2 linked regions of the Homo sapiens genome follow. The protein of the gene in region 1 interacts with the protein of each later gene in a pairwise test. Each region holds a gene or a part of one and is shown in the gene's direction. Other genes may lie near its edges.

Region 1 (3,653 bases):
ATCTGACATCACAGCTCTTTTAAAAATCTCCCAGAATTCTACACTGGAATAAAGATCACCCAGTAAACTCAGCTATGTTGATTCGTAGGAATTTCTCCTTGGAGTTAATAATAATCATTAGAAAAAAAATACAGGAAGAAATAACTTCCTCCTATTCTTATTGTGATAAATTGTAACAATAGCAGACATTCGTATATAGATCCTATAAGCGACAAGAGGGAAAATAGGATTTGCAAATTAAGCATCTGAATAAATATTTTAGAAAAAAATGTTTAGGATATCTGTTCTTTGTCTAAACTATTATTAATAATGGCAAAAACTCCTTTCTTACATGGTTTGGGAAAACAAACAAGCAAAGTGTATTTTAAGCCATAGCATGAAAGTTTCCACTCCTTCTCAAAGCAAACTGTATTTCACTTGCCTTAAATAATAAATATCTCTCCTAAATACATCATAAGACTGGACAAATTTGTGGAACAACTCCCCGCAGCTGGGCAGTTTGACATTAATATCAAATTTCCTGTTGTCGTTTCAGAATTGTCTATTTCACAGCAATATTACCAGTGACTTGAAAGCATTTACAGACAAGTTTGGTTTTGATGTCCTCATCCTGTTCTCCAGCTATCTGTCAGAGGAGCAGCAGCCGAGACGACAGATTGCTGTGTACTCAGAAAACATGGAGCTGTGCAGTCAGGTGAGCCCCTCCTCTGACCCCGTCATGTTCCCTCTGTCCTAACCTGCTGGCTCTCAGAACACACAGTGCAAGACAGAACAGATTGGTGGCTCATGAGCAATTAGCCCAAGAGGTAGAGTCCTAGAGGTTTGAGTTTTAGGAAATGATGGGGGTACTTTTTACATTTGGCCTTTTAAGAAAGCCCCAAAAGCATTTCTCTTCTTGACTGAATCCATAGTGCAAAACATTAGCTCTTTCTCATTCCCAAAAGAGCAAGTTCTCCTTTGGGTGCTATTTTCTTCTAGGACTGCTCCCTGATCATAACTGACAAGGTTTAGCCCCTGTCCCAGGACCGGTTTGGTGCCCAGTGTTTAAGACCTGGTGATCTGATGCTTTAATCAAAGTTAGTTTGTCTCCAGGTACCAGAACTCTGACTAGGTAATCAGTTATCCTCCAGGTTGATAGCTGAGTCTTTTAACCCAAGGCCTAGGAAATAAAAAAAAAAAAGAATTAGATAAATTAATCAAAATAGGCCATCGGATATACCAAGCCAGGTGTACTTAATAACTAATATGAGAACATACATGATTCATTATAATAGGAGCCACACGGGGCCCCAGATGCTTCATTACTTATTTCTCTTCACTAATGGATTCAATGCCTTATGTATCCATGGGTGGCTAGAGGCACAGTCTCTGCCCCTTTCTTTTCTACATCCTCCTTTCTGTCCCCCAAGAGCTCCACTGTAGCTCTCTTGACCCATGCCTATGGGTACTCTCGGGCTCTCTCAAGTCCGAATGTGAAAGAGCATCTCCTCCTCTGACCTGCATCACCAGCCTGTGGTTTTTTCATCACTTTCCTCTGCATTTGGTTTCAAAGCTAAATTTCATCTTTGGTCACTGGCTTCCCAGGGACGGGATTTAGGCCTTGGAAGCCTACAACATGGCGGCTTTCACATCACTTTTAGCAGTAGACCCCTTTTTCAAACCAATGTGAAAATTGGTTCATTGGAAACAGACAAAAGTAGAAGAGCAGATGAAGGAGTTAAAAGCTCTTGAGTTGACCCCAGTCCTCCTCTCTTCTCCCCACCCACCCTCCCCATCCTAGCAATAGCCAGAGGTGGATCGCTGGAATCTTAAGCAACAGAGTCCTGGCTCTGGCCTAGCGAGTTCCTCTTGGCCTGTGTGGTCACACCACTGGCCGAGTCAGCCTTTGCAGCTAGGTTGCCTGGGTACAGAACTCAGGCTCCAGCACTTGTTAGCTGTGTGTTGCTGGACAAGTTATTTAATCTTCCTGTATCTTCATTTCTTCATGGGTAAAATAGGAATAAAAAGAGTTCCTACCTTGTGGAATTACTGTGGTGATTAAAAGAGATAATGATCATAAAACCCTTAGAACCATGCCTGGCACATGAAAGCACTCAATAAATGTTAATTAGTAGTAGTAGTAGTATCTATGTGAGCTCCATGGTGGTAGTGGTGGTTGTTATTATTATTATTAATTTTATCTCTACTAATCCCGTGGGGCCATTTCAAAGGCCCAGCACAACAAAATACTCCTGACATTCCTTAAAAATCAGAAAGCCGTAACCCAGTTCTGGCCTCACACTGACCATCCGTCAGTGTCCCCTTGCCTCCCAGGTTAGCTTTGCCTGTTTTGGGCTCCATGCCTCCGTTACCTGGGGTGAAAGGGACTGAGGGGTCCTGAGTGCTGTTCGGAAAGATCAGACTGCGGGAGCATCTTTGTCTTTCCTACTCTCTCTTTTGCATTCTGAAGCTATCAGAGGTTCAAGCAGCCCTGGCTGCCCCCTCCCAAACAACAGCCTGTCTCCTGATATTGTCCCCTTATTCCAACACTTTTCCTATAGTTGTCAGCAACATGCATTATCTCTGCTTTTTTGCAACTCGAATTACATTGCTATTGGAAGATGGTATTATATTACAGTTAGGAAAGAATAGGTGGTTTAAACTCCTTTACCCAAACGTTCAGGAGCCTTCAAAATCGAGCACCTGGATTTTGAATTAAACAGAGAGACAGTTGGATAGAATTGGAGAAAGGGTTGGTGGTACAGTAATCAGAACTTTCTAAGTTTGAGATCTTCTTTTTCAGACAGATGAACACAGATTAATTTTATATTTAAAAATTAAGCGAGATAAATTGCAAAGTGCAATTGCAAAGTGCAACAGTGCTTGAGTGCTGACACAAATTCCTGTGCCTTCCGACAGATTTGCTGTGAGCTGGAAGAGTGTCAGAACCCTTGCCTAGAACTGGAGCCCTTTGACTGTGGCTGTGATGAGATCCTGGTGTACCAACAAGAGGACCCTTCAGTGACTTGTGATCAGGTGGTTCTCGTTGTCAAGGAAGTCATCAACAGGAGGTGTCCAGAGATGGTCTCCAATAGCCGGACATCCTCAACAGAAGCCGTGGCAGGCAGTGCCCCCCTCTCCCAGGGGTCTTCTGGGATTATGGAATTGTATGGTTCTGACATAGAGCCACAACCCAGCTCTGTGAATTTCATAGAGAACCCTCCAGATCTCAATGATTCTAACCAGGCTCAGGTGGATGCCAATGTAGACCTTGTTAGCCCAGACAGCGGACTGGCTACCATTAGGAGCAGCCGCTCATCCAAGGAGAGCTCTGTTTTCCTCAGTGACGACAGCCCCGTGGGAGAAGGTGCTGGGCCTCACCACACCCTTCTCCCAGGGCTTGACTCCTACAGCCCCATCCCTGAAGGGGCGGTGGCGGAGGAACATGCATGGTCTGGAGAACACGGTGAGCACTTCGACCTCTTCAATTTTGACCCAGCACCCATGGCTTCTGGGCAGTCCCAGCAATCTTCTCATTCTGCAGACTACTCCCCAGCAGATGACTTCTTCCCCAACAGTGACCTGTCAGAAGGACAGCTCCCCGCTGGGCCTGAAGGACTTGATGGCATGGGAACCAACATGTCTAATTATTCATCCAGTTCACTTTTGTCAGG
Region 2 (3,653 bases), on another chromosome or scaffold:
AAGGTTGGGACCACTGCCTTAGAGTTTATAATTTGGGGTTAGCACAGCCTATATTTACCTGAGAATTTCAATGGGTTCACTGATCTTTCCAAATGAAAAGGCTTCTTACGAAAATTATATCCAAACTGTCTTTTCTCTTAGTTTAATAAACCTATCAGTAAGTTTTTACTGAGTACTGCTATTACATTTTTCTCTGTTAAGCATTATGGGGGCTCAGACATGATCCATTCCCTCAAAGAACTTACCTTTCAGCTGAAGACTGACTAGAATGAGCAAATACGGTTAACAATTAACAAGTGAGTAGGCCAGCTCGGCCAACATGGTGAAACCCTGTCTCTACTAAAAATACAAAAATTAGCCGGGCATGGTGGTGGGCGCCTGTAATCCCAGCTACCTCCTGCTGAGGCAGGAGAATTGCTTGAACCCAGGAGGTGGAGATTGCAGTGAGCCGAGATTGCACCATTGCACTCCAGCCTGGGCGACAGAGCAAGACTCTGTCTTGGGAAAAAAACAAAACAAAACAAGTGAGAAGGGAATCAAGTACTACGTAAGATGTAATGTGGAATTTTAGGGAAGGAAGGCAGTGTATGCTGGAGTAATTAGAGAAAGGGGCATGCATGATTTGATGCTTGAACTGGATCATGAAGGATAAGCAAGATTTTGGCAGCAAGTGAGAGGGAGAGAGGAGTTTGTCAGAGGAATGGAACAAGTCAGGAGGCAGTAATGTGTACGGCACTCCAAGGACTCTGTCCTGATCGGAGCAGAAGTGATGAAGCATTGAGTAGTTTGAGAAAGTTAGCTAAGAAGGGTGAGGGCAGATGTTGGAGAGAGTTGAGTATCAGAGAGAAGACATTAGATTTGAGCAGATAGAACAAAAATGCCATTGCCAGTTTTTGTGTAAGAGAATAGTATTAGGGTGGTTACCCAGGAAGTGGTCATCAGAGTTGAATGGAGCAGAAAGAGTGTCTGATACAGCATCGGGACGTTGTGGTCACAAAATGAGGTGGTGAGGGCTGAGCCAAGATGGTGGCAGTGGGATGGATAAAAAGGGATGGCCAGGACAAATATTTTAAAGGAAAAATTAACAGGACATCTTTACTGACTGGATTGGAAGGCTATGCAGGAAATATATTGTCAAACTTGATTCCAGGATTTCTATCCTATGCCTGGGTTGCCCAAAATATCAGGGAACCATTGTTAGAAAAGGTAGGAGATACCACTGTTCCAACAAAAAGTATTGAGTTTGGTGTTGCACCCACTTAACTTCAAGGCCTTACAAGTGAGTAGACAGTTAGTTAGAATTGCAGAAGTGCCACTCAGAGAGCAGGGCTTGCAATGTGGGGTTGGACTTTGTCACCATTGTGTTAATTCCTAATTCTATGCAGATGCTCAGCTTGAGGAATACCCATGTTTGGGCTTCAGAATGAAAGCCAAGTAATATTTACTCAGATGCCAATTTTCCCTCTGAAATATTTGCTCATGGAACTGAGAGAACAATATATAAAGCATTAATTATTTTTCTCATAAAGTTATTAATAAAAAGATAAGATCAGTGAAAGGCAGAGTAAACTAGAAGCCAAGTATAGAAAATGGTATCATTCAAAGACTCATTACTGTAGTGGTGAAAACAAAACAATTTTCCAACAGCTTAAGATGCCTCAGTATTTTGGACCATTTTTAAGTAGTTAGTGTGGGCACTTAGTAAATATGTATTAAACTATAGTTCATTAATTCTTTTTTTTTTTTTTTTGAGATGGAGTTTCACTCTGGTCACCCAGGCTGCATTTTTGCTTTCTTAGTGATATATAAAATGTCGAGTTTCACAATGATGGTATCTTAGATTTGATTAAATATGGTATTAAAAAATAGCTGATCACAGAAAGTCTCTACCAGTGTGATGTAGATGGCTAAAGTATTCCACATTTGCAAACTTTTATTGACCTAAATAAGAGGTGCCCCTTGGGTTGTTTTTATTTGGACTGGGAATATTAGGAGAAAGCTTTTTCATTCAGTGTGTAAGTACAATCTACCAGAAATAGAAACCCCCATGGACGATCTATTTCTTTGATGGTACAGGACTCAGAACATTCACAAAGATTTAGTTGTTAGCGGAATAGACATCTGTATTTTATTCAAACCAATTTTCCCTTCCTAATCTGAGAACATTGTGCAATCTAAGCAGTTCTAAGCATGTTTGCTATTCGTGCAAAGTGAGAGTAAATCTAAAAGAAATTTTTTTGTGTGTTTAGGGATGGTAATAAAGTCTCTTAGTGGTTGAAAATGTTATTTCTTACAAAAGTGGAGAACATTTGCTTTTCAATACCAGAGTTTTCAGCCATTTCTGCATTCTGACCTATTGACTGGAGGTAGGTTGCCTTTGAATTCAGTAAAACTTCATGGGCAGAAACACAGTTCCTTTTCCTACTTATTTGGATATCATGATGGCCATTGCATGTATGTGTCTTTTTGTAAGTCCATGCCTCAGAACTGAGAAGTAGGAATAAAATTAGGGTCAGGGCTGGGGATGCTACTCTTTGCTGCTGAGAAACACAATGCTTCAGGTAAGTGATTCTGAAGTCCTTCACCACCTGACGGTAACCTTGGGTTGGTCCATAGGTATGTTTTCATTTTGCTTGTTCATCCATTTTAATTGGCTTCCTAGAGCATGCTTGTAGATGTAGAGCCAAATTTAGAGTAGAGCAACCCTCTGGCAAACAGGAAGAGATTAATTTTGTGGTATGCTTTTAAGGGACTTCCCAGGAAACTTCAAAAGCAGAAAAAGAAGCACTAGCTGCCTATTCCAAAATGTGTAAAACACCACTCAGCTTTTTAAAAGTAGGATAAACTCAGAGCGCGCGCACACGCGCGCGCGCACACACACACACACACACAGAGAGAACATCTCTAGTAAAAAGAAAAGTTGAGCTTTCTTAGCTAGATGTGTGTATTAGCCAGAAAAAGCCAAGGAGTGAAGGGTTTTAGAGAACTGGAGGAGATAAAGTGGAGTCTGCATATGGGAGGCATTTGAAATGGACTTAAATGTCTTTTTAATGCTGACTTTTTCAGTTTTCTCCTTACCAGACACATTGTTTTCATGACATTAGCCCCAGGCATAGACACATCATTAAAATGAACATGTCAAAAAATGATTTCTGTTTAGAAATAAGCAAAACATTTTCAGTTGTGACCACCCAGGTGTAGAATAAAGAACAGTGGAATTGGGAGCCCTGAGTTCTAACATAAACTTTCTTCATGACATAAGGCAAGTCTTCTATGGCCTTTGGTTTCCTTACCTGTAAAACAGGATGGCTCAATGAAATTATCTTTCTTCTTTGCTATAATAGAGTATCTCTGTGGGAAGAGGAAAAAAAAAGTCAATTTAAAGGCTCCTTATAGTTCCCCAACTGCTGTTTTATTGTGCTATTCATGCCTAGACATCACATAGCTAGAAAGGCCCATCAGACCCCTCAGGCCACTGCTGTTCCTGTCACACATTCCTGCAAAGGACCATGTTGCTAACTTGAAAAAAATTACTATTAATTACACTTGCAGTTGTTGCTTAGTAACATTTATGATTTTGTGTTTCTCGTGACAGCATGAGCAGAGATCATTAAAAATTAAACTTACAAAGCTGCTAAAGTGGGAAGAAGGAG

What was found.
Region 2: the proteins of PRUNE2 (region 1) and BDNF interact in binary tests that used the Homo sapiens proteins (3 or more experiments, as listed by UniProt).

What each region holds. Positions count from the first base shown.
Region 1 is NC_000009.12:76,710,604-76,714,256, reverse strand, and holds part of PRUNE2 (protein prune homolog 2), read left to right. Parts: intron 1-535; coding exon 536-694; intron 695-2,898; coding exon 2,899-3,653. UniProt on the Homo sapiens protein: May play an important role in regulating differentiation, survival and aggressiveness of the tumor cells.
Region 2 is NC_000011.10:27,658,869-27,662,521, reverse strand, and holds part of BDNF (neurotrophic factor BDNF precursor form isoform a preproprotein), read left to right. Parts: intron 1-2,249; exon of another isoform or gene 2,250-2,366; intron 2,367-2,863; exon of another isoform or gene 2,864-3,653. UniProt on the Homo sapiens protein: Important signaling molecule that activates signaling cascades downstream of NTRK2. During development, promotes the survival and differentiation of selected neuronal populations of the peripheral and central nervous systems.